Linked DNA regions of Homo sapiens. Changing the gene in region 4 together with the main gene of any one other region gives a genetic interaction. Each region holds a gene or a part of one and is shown on either strand. Other genes may lie near its edges.

What was found. Genes that interact genetically often act in the same process or in processes that back each other up.
Region 1: changes in COX6C (region 4) and MAPKAP1 together harm fitness more than expected from each alone (negative genetic interaction), as found in Homo sapiens cells (one large-scale study listed by BioGRID).
Region 2: changes in COX6C (region 4) and PGK1 together harm fitness more than expected from each alone (negative genetic interaction), as found in Homo sapiens cells (one large-scale study listed by BioGRID).
Region 3: changes in COX6C (region 4) and TIMM23B together harm fitness more than expected from each alone (negative genetic interaction), as found in Homo sapiens cells (one large-scale study listed by BioGRID).

The regions. Positions count from the first base shown.
Region 1 is NC_000009.12:125,672,709-125,676,208, forward strand, and holds part of MAPKAP1 (target of rapamycin complex 2 subunit MAPKAP1), read right to left. Parts: intron 2,590-3,500; exon of another isoform or gene 2,446-2,589; intron 1-2,445. UniProt on the Homo sapiens protein: Component of the mechanistic target of rapamycin complex 2 (mTORC2), which transduces signals from growth factors to pathways involved in proliferation, cytoskeletal organization, lipogenesis and anabolic output.
Region 2 is NC_000023.11:78,121,248-78,124,747, reverse strand, and holds part of PGK1 (phosphoglycerate kinase 1), read right to left. Parts: intron 1,914-3,500; coding exon 1,799-1,913; intron 1,554-1,798; coding exon 1,374-1,553; intron 1-1,373. UniProt on the Homo sapiens protein: Catalyzes one of the two ATP producing reactions in the glycolytic pathway via the reversible conversion of 1,3-diphosphoglycerate to 3-phosphoglycerate.
Region 3 is NC_000010.11:49,940,586-49,944,852, reverse strand, and holds the start of TIMM23B (mitochondrial import inner membrane translocase subunit Tim23B), read right to left. Parts: upstream 2,801-4,267; 5' UTR 2,659-2,800; coding exon 2,553-2,658; intron 1,619-2,552; exon of another isoform or gene 1,495-1,618; intron 1-1,494. Other genes in the region: PARG (poly(ADP-ribose) glycohydrolase), read left to right, coding at 3,128-3,344. UniProt on the Homo sapiens protein: May participate in the translocation of transit peptide-containing proteins across the mitochondrial inner membrane. the PAM complex.
Region 4 is NC_000008.11:99,882,979-99,887,924, forward strand, and holds part of COX6C (cytochrome c oxidase subunit 6C), read right to left. Parts: intron 4,641-4,946; coding exon 4,527-4,640; 3' UTR 4,512-4,526; intron 1-4,511. UniProt on the Homo sapiens protein: Component of the cytochrome c oxidase, the last enzyme in the mitochondrial electron transport chain which drives oxidative phosphorylation.

The sequences.
Region 1 (3,500 bases), on a different chromosome or scaffold from region 4:
GACACATTCAGTGTAGTAAAATGCCACCTTGAAAATCAACATTTATCCCTGTTCTGTGGAGCTTAAAAGGATTTAGTCTAAGCTGAAAGGAAATCCTTATAAGCACTAGGGGCTGCAGCTCTAGTCAATGAGATCTCTATAGAATCAGAAAGGAAGGCTTGCACTCTTGCAAAACAAATCACAGCAACTCCTTACAAGTCAGGCCACTCGAAGCACATAACTACTGTTAAAACAATATATTTTCCTTTCTTTCTCCCTTCACTATCATGCAATCTTCTCATTACTTTATAAGGTCATGGGGGAACAAGTTGTATTTTCCTCAAATGATGTGCTAAAGTACAAAACTCTATTTCATCAGTTTACATTTCCCCTCCTGTCATATGATTGTGAAGTGTTTAAAAGGGCACAGACAATGCTTTCAGAGTTACTAGGGGTTTTATAAAAATGATGTACCACCAAATTAATGTTGCTCAATGAATATATTTTCCTGTCAAGATAGTATTGTGTTTTTGTTGTTGTTGTTGTTGTGTTTTTTCTGAGACAGGGTATCGCGCTTGTTGCCCAGGCTGGAGTGCAGTGGCGTGATCTTGGCTCACTGCAACCTCCACCTCCCAGGTTCAAGATTCTCCGGCCTCAGCCTCCCGCGTAGCTGGGATTACAGGGATGCGCCACCATGCCCAGCTAATTTTGTATTTTTAGTAGAAATGGGGTTTCTCCATGTTGGTCAGGCTGGTCTCAAACTCCCGACCTCAGTTGATCCGCCCGCCTTGGCCTCCCAAAGTGCTGTGATTACAGGCGTGAGCCACCATGCCTGGCCTGTGTTTTTAAAATAAAATTTATAATCAAAATTACCTACTATACAATCAACTTCTTATTTTAGAAACTTAATTATAAAAACTGCTTCCTCAGTCCTGTTAAAACTGTAATGAGGCCGGGCACAGTGATTCACACCTGTACTCTCAACCCTTTGGGGGGCCGAGGCAGGAGGACTGCTTGAGTCCAGGAGTTCAAGACCAACATGGGCAACACAATCAAAACTCTATCTCTACAAAAATATATATATATAATAATTATTATTTTTTAATTAGCTGAGCATGGTGGGACATGCCTGTAGTCATAGCTACTCATGAGGCTGAAGTGGGGGGATCACTTGAGCCCCAGCATTCAAGGCTGCAGTGAGCTATGATTGCACCATTGCACTCCAGCCTGGGTGACATAGTGAGACCCTGTCTTCTAAAAACAAAACAAAACAAAACATACAAAAAACACTGTAATAATATTTGTTCTAGTAACAAGATAGCACCCTCTCAGTTAAGTGAAAATACTCAACAAAGAAAATATTGCAGGACAACGGTTAGGTACTAGGCCCTAGAGACAGAAAGGGTTCAAACCCTGGCCCTATTACTCGTTAGCTATAAGATCTCAGTCAAAATACTTTACCTTTTTGAGCCTCCCTTTTTTTTTTCCTTCATTTATAAAATGGAAGCTTCAGGAGATAATGCAGGTAAAATGCTCAAAAAAATACATGGCATGTAATTAAATAAATGTTAGCTATTAATAATAATGATAAAAAATCAATAATTTCAATGATCAATTCTTGCTTAAAGTAGTCCTAAAATATGTCAATATCCCATCTGTCTTAGTAAGTTCGTGGCACATAAAATAAGTCTGTGCTTCCTTTGTGATAGAGGACACTGCAAGTCATCTGAGTGACTTCCCTGCCCCTGCAAAATTGTTGAGAAGTACAAGGAATATGAAAGCTGGATTGACTATGTTTCCAGGAACAGTCCTAGAAGATACTTACTTTCAGAAGGACTTATAACACCAGATTTTCTTGTAATCTGTTTCTTCTAGAAATGGAACATAGAGAGGAAATCTAGCTAATAAATCCTTACAGTTAACTAAGGTTTTAAAAATTGTTGTCTGGAAACACATCATTCTGCTGATGTGTCTTAAAGTGGGTCTTAAAATAAAGATACTGAGATTAAAAAGAAATTTAACTGAGGAGCATCTCTAATCAAGCAAATTACATTAATCTTCACTTTTTTCCTCTTAATATATTCCTTGAGTACTTATTTTACTCTGAGGCTAATGGGAAATGCAAAGGTGAGTAAGGTATCCCTGAATCAAAAAGTTAATACCCTAATACAGACCGAGTACATCTCCTAATACCATGGGATTCCTTTAAGCATCAAATTTCTGAGATATCTGGTCCCTGAAGTATTAGTGTCAATCTACCATTTTAAGGATATTGATCAGAAAAAAATATGAAATTAACAATGAGCATTTAAATTTCACTTGTAAAAATACAAACTTCTCTATAACCATAAAAAATGTATACACCACACATTTATTTATAAATGAGAGTATTTGTGGAAGCATAGTATCACAGATCAGAGCTGCAAACATCCTTCTACAGCAATCACAATAAGCCATCTTCCTGGCATGAAAGGAAGGCAGCTAGTCACCAGTAGAGAGGCAGGTGCTTTCAAATTCATACTGAATAGTTCTCCCTTGCAAAAACAAGGGCTTTAATGAGAAGTCACACATTTAATACACTTGATCTTAGCCAAAAGGCCGAGAAGTGATCAGATATTTAATAGGTGTTCTAGCACCAAAAAGTCAAATGGCAAAAGGCAAAGTGACAAAAGTATACTGAAGTGCCCTCAATAAAATCTATTCTAGGGAAATAGATCACTTCTGAAGATAAGAGGAATGGGCAAACACTTCTGAAGGCACATACCAACTTCCCAGCTTTATCCTCCCAGAACAAATGCCTCAACAGCAGCAGATATCTTCTCTATTAGGACACTATGACTTCATACATTAAGGAATCTGTATGATTCATTCAAAAAATATTTATTCCCTACCAGCTCTGATATGGAACTCCCACAGGACTGCCCCAGAAAACATATTATTGTGTATGTCACTTTTTACCTCCAATTACATGTACTTAAAGACTTAGACTATAAGTTCCACAAGGACAGGGTTCATAACACCATATTCCTTCTGGCAACAAAGGCTGTTATACATGGCAGGAGTTCAATAAATGTTGCTGTCTAACTTCCAAGGACTATTCAATTTTGTTGTAGAGATAAGTCATATATGAATGTGCCAGGTGTAAGTGTGTGATTATAAATAAAGGATTGTCTTTTTTTCGTAATACAAGAGCATCTCTTCAACGTGCCCTTCAAAATTGTCCCCTTGGAACACTATTCAACTTATTCTAACAAGACTACTTTTCAAAACCCAAAAGAATATTTTAAAAAATCTCCCAAAGAGCAGCAAATTATCATTTGAAGCTATGTTTGATTTCCAAGACAAGGACATACATATCACGGATAAAAACAAATTGTACTCTCTGATCAGTTGTGCACAGATCAAAAAGATTTTTAAAAATCTAACTCTGGCAAGGGTTCAGAGAAATGGGCACTCTCATGCACAATATGAAGGAATGAAAACTGGGACTTTTTAGACGGTAATTTGGTAATATTTACCAA
Region 2 (3,500 bases), on a different chromosome or scaffold from region 4:
CTTTATAAACCTGTTCATGCCCTTTATACTCAAAAATTCTACTGTATGGAAGATCAAGTCTAACGGAAAACCTCAAAAGTTATTTAATAAAGACATTCTTAGCCACACTATTTATGTTAGTGAAAACTAGATCAATGGTTCTCAACCAGGTCAGTTCTGCCCCTTCATAATAGATAGGCATGTGGCAATGTCTAGAAATATTGTTGTTGCAACTTGGGAGGGTGCTACTGGCATCTAGTGGCCAAGGATGCTTTAAACAACCTTACAATTCAACAGTCCCCCACAAAACAACAGATGTCAATAGTGTTGGGAATGACAGTAAACTAGATCAGTAGTACTCAAACTTTGCCATGCATGAGAATCACCAGGAGGGCTTATTCAAACAGACTGTTTGGCCCCACCCTCAGTTCCTGATTCGGTAGGTCTGGGGTGGGACCCAAGAACTTGCATTTTTAACAAGTTCCAAAAATGATACTGATACTGCTGGTCTTAGGAACATACTTTGAGAAACACTGAACTAAATAATACGTGAATGCCTGAAAAGAAAAATAAGCAAACTAGCATGTAAAAACATGATACAATTTTATACAGCAATCAAAATGATATTTGGAGCACCCTAAAATCAACTATATTAGTCTTTAATATACACTTACATTTCTCCCTGCTTGTAATCAGTATACTTAATTTTTTCATATGAGAAAGTTTTCTTATATAGCTTTCTAGATAGCAACATAATCCAAAACAACCCAAACCATGAAAGTACATGACACTATCTCCAGTACGCAGTAAGTACTTAATACACATTAAACAGATGAAGAAAAAACAGATAAAACTAAAAATGGGCCGGGCACAGTGGCTCACGCCTGTAATCCCAGCACTTTGGGAGGCCGCAGCAGGTGGATCATGAGGTCAAGAGATTGAGATCATCCTGACCAACATGGTGAAACCCCGTCTCTATGAAAAATACAAAAATTAGCTGGGCATGGTGGTGCACACCTGTAGTCCCAGCTACTGGGGAGGGTTAGGCAGGAGAATCACTTGAACCTGGGAGGCAGAGGTTGCAGTGAGCCGAGATCATGCCACTGCACTCCAGCCTGGTGACACAGCGAGACTCTGTCTCAAAAAAAAAAAAAAAAACAACAACAACAAAGTTTTGCAACACATTACTGCATTACTGAAGGCCAGTAATCCAATAGCACTGCTTTTCTCCCATGGATTCTTCCATGAGGGACTCACTGCAACATGCAGAGCCCTCTCTGACAGATCTCCTATAGAGATTGTTTTAAAATGCTTGTTGATTGGCTGAATCAATGAATAAATGACACCACAGAGTTTCTGTTCACTCACACTACCAACCCACTCAAGTGACTCACCATCCAGCCAGCAGGTATGCCAGAAGCCACAGTGGCTTGGCCAGTCTTGGCATTCTCATCAAACTTGTCAGCAGTGACAAAGTCAACAGGCAAGGTAATCTTCACACCATTCTTCTCAGCTTTGGACATTAGGTCTTTGACAATCTTGGCTCCCTCTTCATCAAACAGAGAAGTGCCAATCTACACAGGGGAGCCAAAATGATGGAGGTCAGCATCTATACTAAGAACAAGACTGCCTCACAAAGCAGACAGGAACCAGACACAATACAATATAAAGGAACAATGCAAAGACGAAAGACTTGCCAAAATAAATAAAAATGGGAATTTTCAGGGCTCATGTCAAAAGACTGTTTTCTTTTTACATTTATACAACCTGCTATTATCATGGAGAGCTATTTCACATCCACTTGGCATTTGTTTCCTACCTCCATGTTGTTGAGCACCTTAAGGAAGGTAAAAGCCATTCCACCACCAATAATCATCTCATTGACTTTGTCCAGCATATTATTGATGAGCTGGATCTTGTCTGCAACTTTAGCTCTACAAGAGAAAGCAAGAATCATCACTTAAAGAAGAATGGACTAGAGAAGTGGTATTACATAGAAACTGAGTTTCTATTTCAAGGCACAGGAACAGAGAAAGTCTCAAAGTGACAAAAGTACTGCCTAACTTTGCCCTATGTTTCTCCAACCCAAAAACTCAATCCATTTCTAAGAAATCCTTTTAAGGTATGGCTCCAGACATCAGTGTATCTTTTTAAAAATTCCTCACCCCACTTACCATCAATACATTTTTTTTTAATTCTACCTAGAAGCTGATGGACAACAGATTTAAATCCATATTCTTTTTTTAAGCAGGGCTCAGAAGACCTACTCTTGTCTAAGGAAACTATGGGTTCCACATCTATTTTGCACATTCCCCAACACACACACACACACACACACACACACACACACACACACACAAATTCAGAGCATCAAGATTGCTAATTGTATCTAAGCACGATTGCTAATTGTGGGATCCCAGAGCCACTCAGAATTATCCTAACCTTAGAGCAGGGATTGACTGGACTGTATACTAAATAAATATATACTGAACAAAAATATATATTCCTAAAGTCATACCCTATGCTCAGTTGCTGGGACATTTTTTTCTCTCTCTCTTTTCAACACAAAGTCTCACTCTGTTGCCGAGGCTGGAGTGCAGTGGTACAATCATAGCTCACTGTAACCTGGAACTCCTAGGCTCAAGCAATCCTCTTGCCTCAGCCTCTCAAGTAGCTGCGACCACAGGCGTACAACACTACCCCTGGATAATTTTTCTTTTTAAATTTTTTTGTAGAGACAAGGTCTCACTATGTTGCCCAGGCTAGTTTCAAACTCCTAAGCTCAAGTGATCCTCCTGCCTTGGCCTTCCAAAGCACTAGGGTTACATGCCTAAGCCACCATGCCCAGCCTGGGACATTTTCTTTATGGCATTTATTTTTATTGGGTCACCCAATTCAACACATTTACTGGGCACCTACTCTGTGCCAAGCACTATTCTAGGTCTTTGAGAAACATCACAGGGCAAAGGCAACAGAAAGATCCCTACCCTTTGGGATCTTATTTTCTAGTACATGGAAATAAGATAAATACACATGTATCTTGCATCTCCCTATGAGACAAAAAAGATCCAAACTAAAGAGAAACAAAGTAATAGCCTGCCTTCCATAAACATTCCCATATAACTAAATCCCACTTACGTGGACAAACCACCTTGTGTCTGTTTCCTTCTTCATTCAATAAACAAGATAATGCCTATCCAGTGAGAAACCCTATGCTAGGATTTGTGAAAAGGAGGTATGAAACAACAGTGATGTGGGTGAACAGATGGCAAGAAACTATTTACTATTTATTTCAGTTGTAAAGATTGGTTACCACCAAGGGTAAAGATAGATTGTTTTAAATACACACACACACACACACACACATACACACACAAAGGGAAGAAAGCAGTTAGAAAGGAGTTCAATTTCTTCTAAAGAATAGCTTACAGCTCAAATGCCTGTTTCTTCAACAAATCAACAGAATGAAAGTAATAAATAGGAGATTATTACAAGAGATACCTAACAGCCAAAGGCAATGC
Region 3 (4,267 bases), on a different chromosome or scaffold from region 4:
CCTCAATCCCAAACCAGGTCTTCCACTGGTGGCTCAGGCTTTTACACCAATAAGATAATCGCAGTGTCATAGATCTGATTTTTGAACTTACAGGAAGTGTAGTCCAGGCCATTTACAAAGCTAATTTCTTTCACTTTACTACAAGAATGCTTGGTGACTATATAAATTACAAAATAAGACTGAGAAAAGACTAATCAATTCCATGGGAAAAACAGTGGTTGGGTTGGGTTTTCTGACTGTGTACATGTTGTATCTAACTATTTCAAGGCAGTTCCTTCACATATTACTATTAACGATTGATTTACTGTGGCAAGGTTGAGAATCCTTGGGTCATTACCACAGGTATGTGGGTCTGTGCAAAAGAAAACACAAACTTTGAGAGGGCCAGACCTGAATTCACTAACATTGAAAACAGTAAAACCTATCATCTTTGGATCCTTCTGTATCTCAGCAGTTATTTACAAACCTATGCATCACCCATGCCTCTATCTTTTCATCAATTAGGAGTCCTGCTTGTTCTATTTTTAATACCCATTTTGAATTGTGTTACTTATCTTCTCTATTGCTACCATCCTAGTCCAACCATCATATCTCACAGCAACAATTTCCTAACTCCTTGCTTTCTCTTACCCCTTCAATTCACTGTCTACATAGCAACTACGTGATTTTTCTTAAGAAAATCGAAACTCCTTACCATAACTTACAAAATCCTACATTAGCTGTCATTCCCTACCTCTCTGATTTCACAAGCTTCAATTGATCCAACTCCCTTGTAACTACGAAGACAGACTGGCCTAAGAGCTGTTCCTTAAACATGCCAAATTTGTTTTGTTTCAGGACATTTGCACTAGCTATTTTCCTGGATACTTGCCTCCCAAGCATTTGTACTGTATTTGGGTCACAGCTCAAATGTCAACTCCCTTGAGATGTTTTCCCTAATCCGCTCTAAAATGGCATCCTGCTTCCATCACAATCTCATGACTCTGCTTTATTCCCTTTACAGCACTTATCACTAAAGGCAATGTTTTAATTTATGTTTGTTGGTTTACCTCAGTATTATGTAAGCTCTGTGAGCGCAAGGGTCCTCTTTTCAAAAAAAAAAAAAAAAAAAAAAACCCACAAAAACCACTATAGTCCTGCCCCCAGAAAAGTAGCTAGCACACTGTAAAAGCTCAGTAAATGGTGTTCATTCCCTGGTCCCCCAATTTACCTTCAAATCTTAATCAAATTAATTTAACAATATTGTCACATTAAGGAAGTGTATATGCCCTTTGTGCTCTGAAACTCAGAAATACTAAGATTAATATGAAACTGTGTTCTAAACAGGTAAAGTAGTAGCTCAGGCCTAGGAATCCCAGCATTTTGGGAGGCCGAGACAGGAGGATGGCCTGAGTTCGAGAGTTTGAGACCAGCTTGGACAACACAGGGAGACCCCATCTCCACAATAAGTCAAAAAAAAAATTTTAAAAATTAGCCAGGTGTGGTGGTACGTACCTAGATTCCCAGCTACTTAGGAGGCTTAGAGGGGAGGATTGTTTGAGCTCAGGAGTGCCAGGCTTCAGTGAACTATAATCATGCCACCGCACCCCAACATGGGTGACAGAACGAGGTCCTGACTCTAAAAACAAACAAAAAAAAAACGAAACAAAACACCATGTGTTGTAGATTCAGTTTTTTGACAAAGGTGACACCAGGGAAATGAAAGGTCTTTTATATTTTTTTGCACTAGAGTCAGTCTGAACATATTTCGTTGTTGTTGTTCCTTAGTATAAAATACCTAGAGAAATATTACAAGGATTCTCTAAAAAGAAAGTACTTTCGTAAAGGCTTTATCCACGACCAACTGCCTATCTTTAGGTCCAAGTTCTATTTATCTAGTTGAACAACCACAGTTACAAAGTACCAAAGTTCTGGAAAACATATTCACAAGACCGAGGAGAGGCAAAGGCAAGATATTTATGCCTCTGTATACCTTGATGTTGCCTATTTCCTTTCCTATAATTCTTACCTGGCTTCTTTCTTCATGTCTATATATCACCTTTAAAGTTCAGCTTACTTCCTAGCTCCTAAAGAAGGTTTCCTAGCCTGTCCCAAGTCATATTTATTTCTCACTTACATGCAATATTACTGAATATTCTGCCCTTACGGCTACTTGGAGGCTCAGAATATGTCACTGTGTACTAAAAAGTTAACTACGGGCTTGCTATTTGGAATACATTTACTCCCAAAGCTGGGCTCTACTCTTAAGGGTCAATCACACGGCCCACCACACACAAAACGTACGAGGCTTGGATATAAACCTAAGAAAACATGCATCATCTCGCGAGTCCAGGTCAATCACGGACAGCTTCCCCAGGAGATCCGTGGCCCTTTTTTAGGCCTTTCTATCTTGAAAGAGCAGCCATGCAGATACACTAACCCCACCACTGGTACTTAAGCTTGTAAACGCCAGCAAGGAAAAAAAAACCAACAACATAAAACATGGGACGCGCAACTTTAGTGTAAACGCAAGAACCAGTCAGAAATAATCGCAAGCTAGGCCCCATACTTACGCGGGACGCCAGCCAAATCCGCGTGCGAGTAACCTGCTTCGCCGGCTCCGAAAAAGCCGGCCAATACCCCTGTGGTTTTGTCGCCGCTTCCCCCGCCTCCTTCCATGGTATCGCAGCAAACCGAGTGGTTCCCGCCGCTGCCTCAAGCCTGGGTGGTCCGCTGGGCCGTTACTCCTCAATAACAGCGGGTAACCCCGCGTTGCCAGCGCCTACTTCACACGCTGACATTCCGGGCGCCGGTTCCCGTTAAGCGCCACACTTCCGCTTTGCGGCAGTGTGCGCCCCGGAAGCCGGAAGCGCCTGACGGCAGCTTTCCGGTGGTGGGAAAGTGAACGAATCCCGAATCAAAGCGGCGCATTGAGGCAGGTGGGGTGCCAGTGGAAGAGGGAAGGCAGGCGAGTGTTTACGGCCTGACTTGGGAGGCCGGCGGATCAGCAATTGCAGAAGCAGGCAGCGGCAGAGAGGGAATGGTGCAGGCAGGCGCTGAGAAGGAGGCGCAGTCCATCTCTCTCAGGGTTAGTGAATGAGGCTCTCCGCCCGGGCCGGCCCGGGGACAGTGCGCTGCTGGTCCCAGCATGAATGCGGGCCCCGGCTGTGAACCCTGCACCAAGCGACCCCGCTGGGGCGCCGCTACAACTTCGCCGGCTGCTTCGGACGCCCGGAGCTTTCCCAGCAGGCAGAGGCGCGTCCTCGACCCCAAGGACGCTCACGTGCAGTTCAGGGTCCCACCGTCCTCGCCAGCCTGCGTCCCAGGGCGGGCGGGACAGCACAGAGGCAGCGCCACCTCGCTTGGTACGTGGGAAAATAAAAATCTTTGTCCTTCGCCTCGGCCCGAACCTTCTGGTCTCAGTCTGAGGACCCAGGGGCTCCAGTCACTCCTTTCTGGTCTTGTGTGCATCGTCACTCTTGAGGTCCACTTGCTGAGCTACCAAAGCCACTAGTGGGTGAATGGGGCCGCATTTTTCCCAGTGCGATTGATGTGAGAAACTCTGATGAGCAGTCACTCACAGGGCGGAAAATGGCAGGAGACTCCACCACCTGTTTGCTTCTTCAGGTTTGATTGAGAAATTGCCTTAGTCGTCAAGGAGATCTAATTGTGTATGTAAAACAGTAGGGCGCTTCAGCCTCTAGATAGGAAGAAAACAACTTCACTTGTTCAGATTCTGGGTCCCAGGGTGCAGAGCTATTAGTTTAAGCTGGCATTGTACCCGTCCCTGGTATACAGTGTTGAACGAGAGAAACTTGGCCTCTGCCTTCATACCTTAAAATCTATCTGGAGAGATAGACGATAGCAAAAGTTAATATAATAAAAGGTAATGGATGTTCTGATAGATGAATGACAGATTGTTTTACCTAACTGAATTTATGGAATCGAAAATAGTCCTCCAGAAGATGAGATGCTTATTCTGAGGACTGTAGAATGAGTAGGAGTTAGATGAAGAGGAAGTAAGAAGTGTTTCAGGAGTGCAACCGAGGCCGGGCGCGGTGGTTTTGCCTGTAATCCCTGAGCTTTGGGAGGCTGGGGCGGGTGGATCACCTGAGGTCAGGAGCTCAAGACCAGCCTTACCAATATGGTGAAACCCCGTCTCTGCTAAAAATACAAAAAATTAGCCTAGCGTGGTGGCGGGCAACTGTAATCCCAGCTACTCGGGAGGCTGAGGCAGGTGAGGCAGGAGAATCGCTGGCATCCGGGAGGCGGAGGTTGCAGTGAGCCG
Region 4 (4,946 bases):
GGTTTCGCCATGTTGCCCAGGCTGGTTTCAAACTCCTGGGCTCAAGCAATTCACCTGCTTTGGTCTCCCAAAGTGCTGGGATTACAGGCCTTATGAGCTACCACACCCACTCTAGAAACACAATCTAACCAAGACTGGATCAGGAAAACAATAATCTGAACGTCTATAACTAGTAGGAATTTTTAATCAGTAGCCAAAAACTTCAAAAAACAAGAGTCCAAGACCATATGGTGAATCCTACCAAACTTTTTTGAGACAGGGTCTCATATTCTGTTATCCAGGATGGAGTGCAGTGGTGTGATCATAGCTTATGCAGCCTTAAACTCCTGTGCTCAAGTGAACCTCCTGCCTCAGCCTCCCAAGTAACTGAGACTACAGGCATGTACCACCACACCCAGCTAACTATATATATATCTGTGTGTGTGTATATATATGTGTGTGTGTGTATATATGTATGTGTGTGTGTGTGTGTGTGTATATATATATATATATATTTTTTTTTTGGTAGAGATGGGGTCTTGCCATGTTGCACAGGCTGATCTCTAACTTCTGGATTATAGTGATCCTCCTTTCTCAGCCTCCCAAAGTGCTGGGATTACAGGCATGAGCCACCATGCCCAGCCCTCTATGAAACCAGCACCAATCCTCCTCAAGTTTTTCCAAAAACAGTGAGGAAAAGGGAACATTTCCACATTCATTCTATAAGGCCAGCATTATCCTGATATCAAAGACAAACACACGAGAAAACTATAGGCCAAATCCTTTAACACAGATGCAAAAATCGTCAACAAAACACTAGCAAACCAGATTTGACATCGCATTAAAAGAATCATGTACTATGATTAAGTGGGATTTATCCCTAGGATGCAAGGATAGTTCAACATATGCAAATCAATAGATGTGACATACCACACTGACAGAATGAAGGATAAAAAACACATCTCAAAAAATGCAGAAAAAGTACTTGACAAAATTCAACATCCTTTCATGATCAAAACTATCAACAGAAGGAATGTACTTCAACCCAACAATGGCCAAAAAGGACAAGTCTAGTATACTGAACATGGAAAACGTGAAAGCTTTTCCTCTAATACCTAGAACCAGACAAGGATGCCCGCTCTTGCCACTTCTATTCATTGTAGTACTGGAAGTCCTAGCCAGAGCAATGAGGCAAGAAGGAATAAGCAACATCCAAAAAGGAAAGGAGTAAGTAAAACTATCTGTTTACAGATCATATAATCTTACCTCCAGCAAACCCTAAAGATTTCTAACACACAAGTGTCAGAATACATGAATTCTACTAAGTTGGAGGATACAAAAATCAGCTCTTTCTACACACCAACAATGAAGGAAATAAAGGAATGCCTAATAAAGGAAATTAAGAAAATAATTCTATTTATAATAGCACCAAAAATAATACTTAGGAATGTATTTAATCAGGAATATGAAAGACTTAAACACTGACCTAGATGAAACAGATATATACCTGTATACTGCTAAAAAAATTAGCAAATCTCATTCATGCAATCCCCATGGTAACCACAAAGAAAATACAGAATATACACATAAGGAAGTAAGAAGGAAACTGAAACATGTCACTATAAAATAAAGGAAAAGTACGGAAAGAAATGTGTGTCCTTGGACACATTGTTTTGATTATAGTAGTCTCCTTTTATCCAAGGTGATATGTTTCAAGACCCTTCCAGTGAATTACTGAAACTATGGATGGTACCAAACCCTATACAGCTACGTTTTTTCCTATATATACACATACCTATAATAAAGCTTAACTCATAAATTAGGCATAGTAAGAGAGTAGCAACACTAAAAGAAATTAAAGATGCAAACTACTGCTAAAAGAAATTAAAGATACAAATAAGAGGAAAGACATCCTGTGTTCATGGATTGGAATACTTAATATTGTTACGATGTCCATACTACCAAAGTAATCTACAGATTTAATGCAATCCCTATCAAAATCCCAATGGCATTTTTACAGAAATAGAAAAATCCATCCTAAAATTCACAGACTCTTAAGGAACCACAAATAGCTAGAGCACCCTCCGGGTGGGGTGAAAGAAAGAACAAAGCTAGAGGACTCACACTTACTGATTTTAAAGCATACTACAAAGCTACAGTGTAGCAGTCATCCCTTATTTGTGGTTTAACCTTCCACCGCTTTAGTTCTACCCACAGTCAACTGTGGTTCAAAAACAGGTGAGTACAGTACAGCAAGATATTGAGAGATCACATTCACCTTTTATTACTATACACTACAATTGTTCTATTTTGTTATTGTTGCTCATCTCTTACTATGTCTAATTTATGAGTTAAACGTCATCATAGGTATGTACGTACACGAAAAACAACATAATATATACAGGGTTTGGTACTATCTGTGGTTTCAAGAATCCACTAGAGGGGTCTTGAAACATATCTTAGATAAAACGGACTACTGTAATCAAAACAGTGTAGTACTGCCCCGAAGACAGACATACAGACTAAAGAAATAGCCCAGAAATAAACTCTCGCATTTAGAGTCAAATGATTTCACCAAGGTACCAAGACCACTCCATGGAAGAGGACAATCTTAAATGATTTCGGGAAAACTGGATACCACATGTAAAAGAATACAGTTGGATCTTTACACCCTACACAAAAATTCAAGTGAATCAAAGATCTAAACATAAGAGCTAAAACTATAAAAGTCTTAGAAGAACACATAAAAAAGACTTCATGACATTGGATTTGGCAATGATTTATTGAATATGACACTAAAAGCACACAGAACAAAAATAAAAATAAATTCGACATCAAAATTTCTGTGCATCAAGGGACACAACAGAGTGAAAAGGCAACCTATGAAATGGGAGAAAATATTTACAAATCATATCTGATAAGGGGTTAATATCCAGAATATATACAGAACAACTCAACCAATAAACAAAAAACCAAATTTGAAAATGAGCAGAACTGAATAAACATTTCTCCAAAGATAACATACAAATGGCCAATAAGTACATGAAAAGATGCTCAAGAACACAAATAATCAGGGAAATGCAAATCAAAACCACAATGATACCACCTCATACCTATTAGGATGGCTACTATCAAAAAATACCAAAATTATGCCAGGCACAGTGGCTCACGCCTGTAATCCCAACACTTTGGGAGGCCAAGGTGGACGGATCGCCTGAGCCCAGGAATTCAAGCACAGCCCAGGTAATATGGTGAAACCCTGTCTCTACTAAAAATAAAGAAGTTAGCCAGGTGTGGTGGCACATGCCTATAGTGCCAGCTTCTTGGGAGGCTGAGGCAGGAAGATCCCTTGAGCCTGGGAGGTTGAGGCTGCAGTGAGCCATGATCGCACTACAGCACTACGGCCTGGGTGACAGAGGGAGACCCTGTTAAAAAAAAAATTAACAAGTGTTGGGGAGGATGGAAAGAGTGTAAAATGGTGCAGCCACTATGGAAAAGGGTATGGCAGTTTCTTAAGAAATTAAAAATCATATGATCCAGGAATTCCACTTTTGAATATACCCCAAAAGAATTGATAGCAAGGCCTTGAAGGAATATTTGCATGCCTAGGTTCACAGCATCACTCACAACAATCAAAAAGTGGAAGCAACCCAAGCATCTACTGATGGATGAATGGATAACAATGTGACACAACTAAAATAGATCATTCAGCTTTAAAAAGAAAGGAAATTCTGACACATGCTGTAACATGGATGAACCTTGAGTACACTACGCTAAGTGAAATAAGCCAGTCACAAGAAAACAAATACTGTGTGATTCTACTTATGAGATGCCTGGGGTAGCCAAATTCTTAGAAAGTAACACAGTGGCTGCCAGGGTCTGAGTGGAGGTGTGAATGGGTTGCTTAATGGATATAGGGTTTCAATTCTGTAAGATGACGAGTTCTGGAGACTGGTTGCACAACAATGTGAATGAACTTAACACTACTAAACTGTACAATTAAAAATGGTTAAGATGGCAAATTTTATATTATAGATGCTCCTTAACTTACCATCAGGTTACATTCTGATAAAACCATCATAAGTTTAAAATATCTTAAGTTGAAAATGCATTTAATACACCTAACTTACATCATAGCTTAGCCTTCCCTACCTTAAATGTGCTCAGAACACTTATGTTAGCCTACAGCTGAAGAAAATCATCTAACACAAAGCCTAGCTTATAATAAAACACTGAGTATCTCACACAACACTACAGAGTACAGCATCAGCTGTTTACCCTTGTGATTATGTTTCTGACTGGGGGATGTGGTCATTGGTGCTCCCCCACATCACAAAAGTATTGTGCCACTTATTGCTCATGTGGACAAAGATCAAAATTCAAAGTATGGTTTCTACCAAATGTGTATCACTTCCACACCATCGTAAAGTCAAAAAATCTTAAGTCTAAACATTGTGAGGGACAGTCACCTGTATTTGCATTTTACCACAATTAGAAATTTTTTTTTAAGTAACTTCAAATAACCATATTACCTTTATATTCCAAGATTACTTTACACTCTGAAAGATACCAGCCTTCCTCATCTCCTCAAAATCTTTCATGACATCGTAGTTTCTGTAGAAATCTGCGTATGCCTTCTTTCTTTGATCAGCCACACGAAACTAAAAAGCAACCATCCATTAGAGTTTATTTTTCAGATTACTGGAAATTAGATTCCAGATTATAATATATAAAGACAAGGTAGAACACATGTTTTTGTTCACCCTTTAATTTAAACCCTACATTTCCTAAGGGGTGGAGGTGGTGACAGATAAAAAGGAAGACAAAGTCTAAGAAACTGCTAAATTTGCAAAGAAAAGAATGGGGAATAAGGTGTCTATTTTGTTTTGTTCGAGGTTTCCGTACACAAAGGGTGGGTGGGGTTCAACAGAGAAAGAAAAAATGAAGATTCAAGACAAAAATGGAAA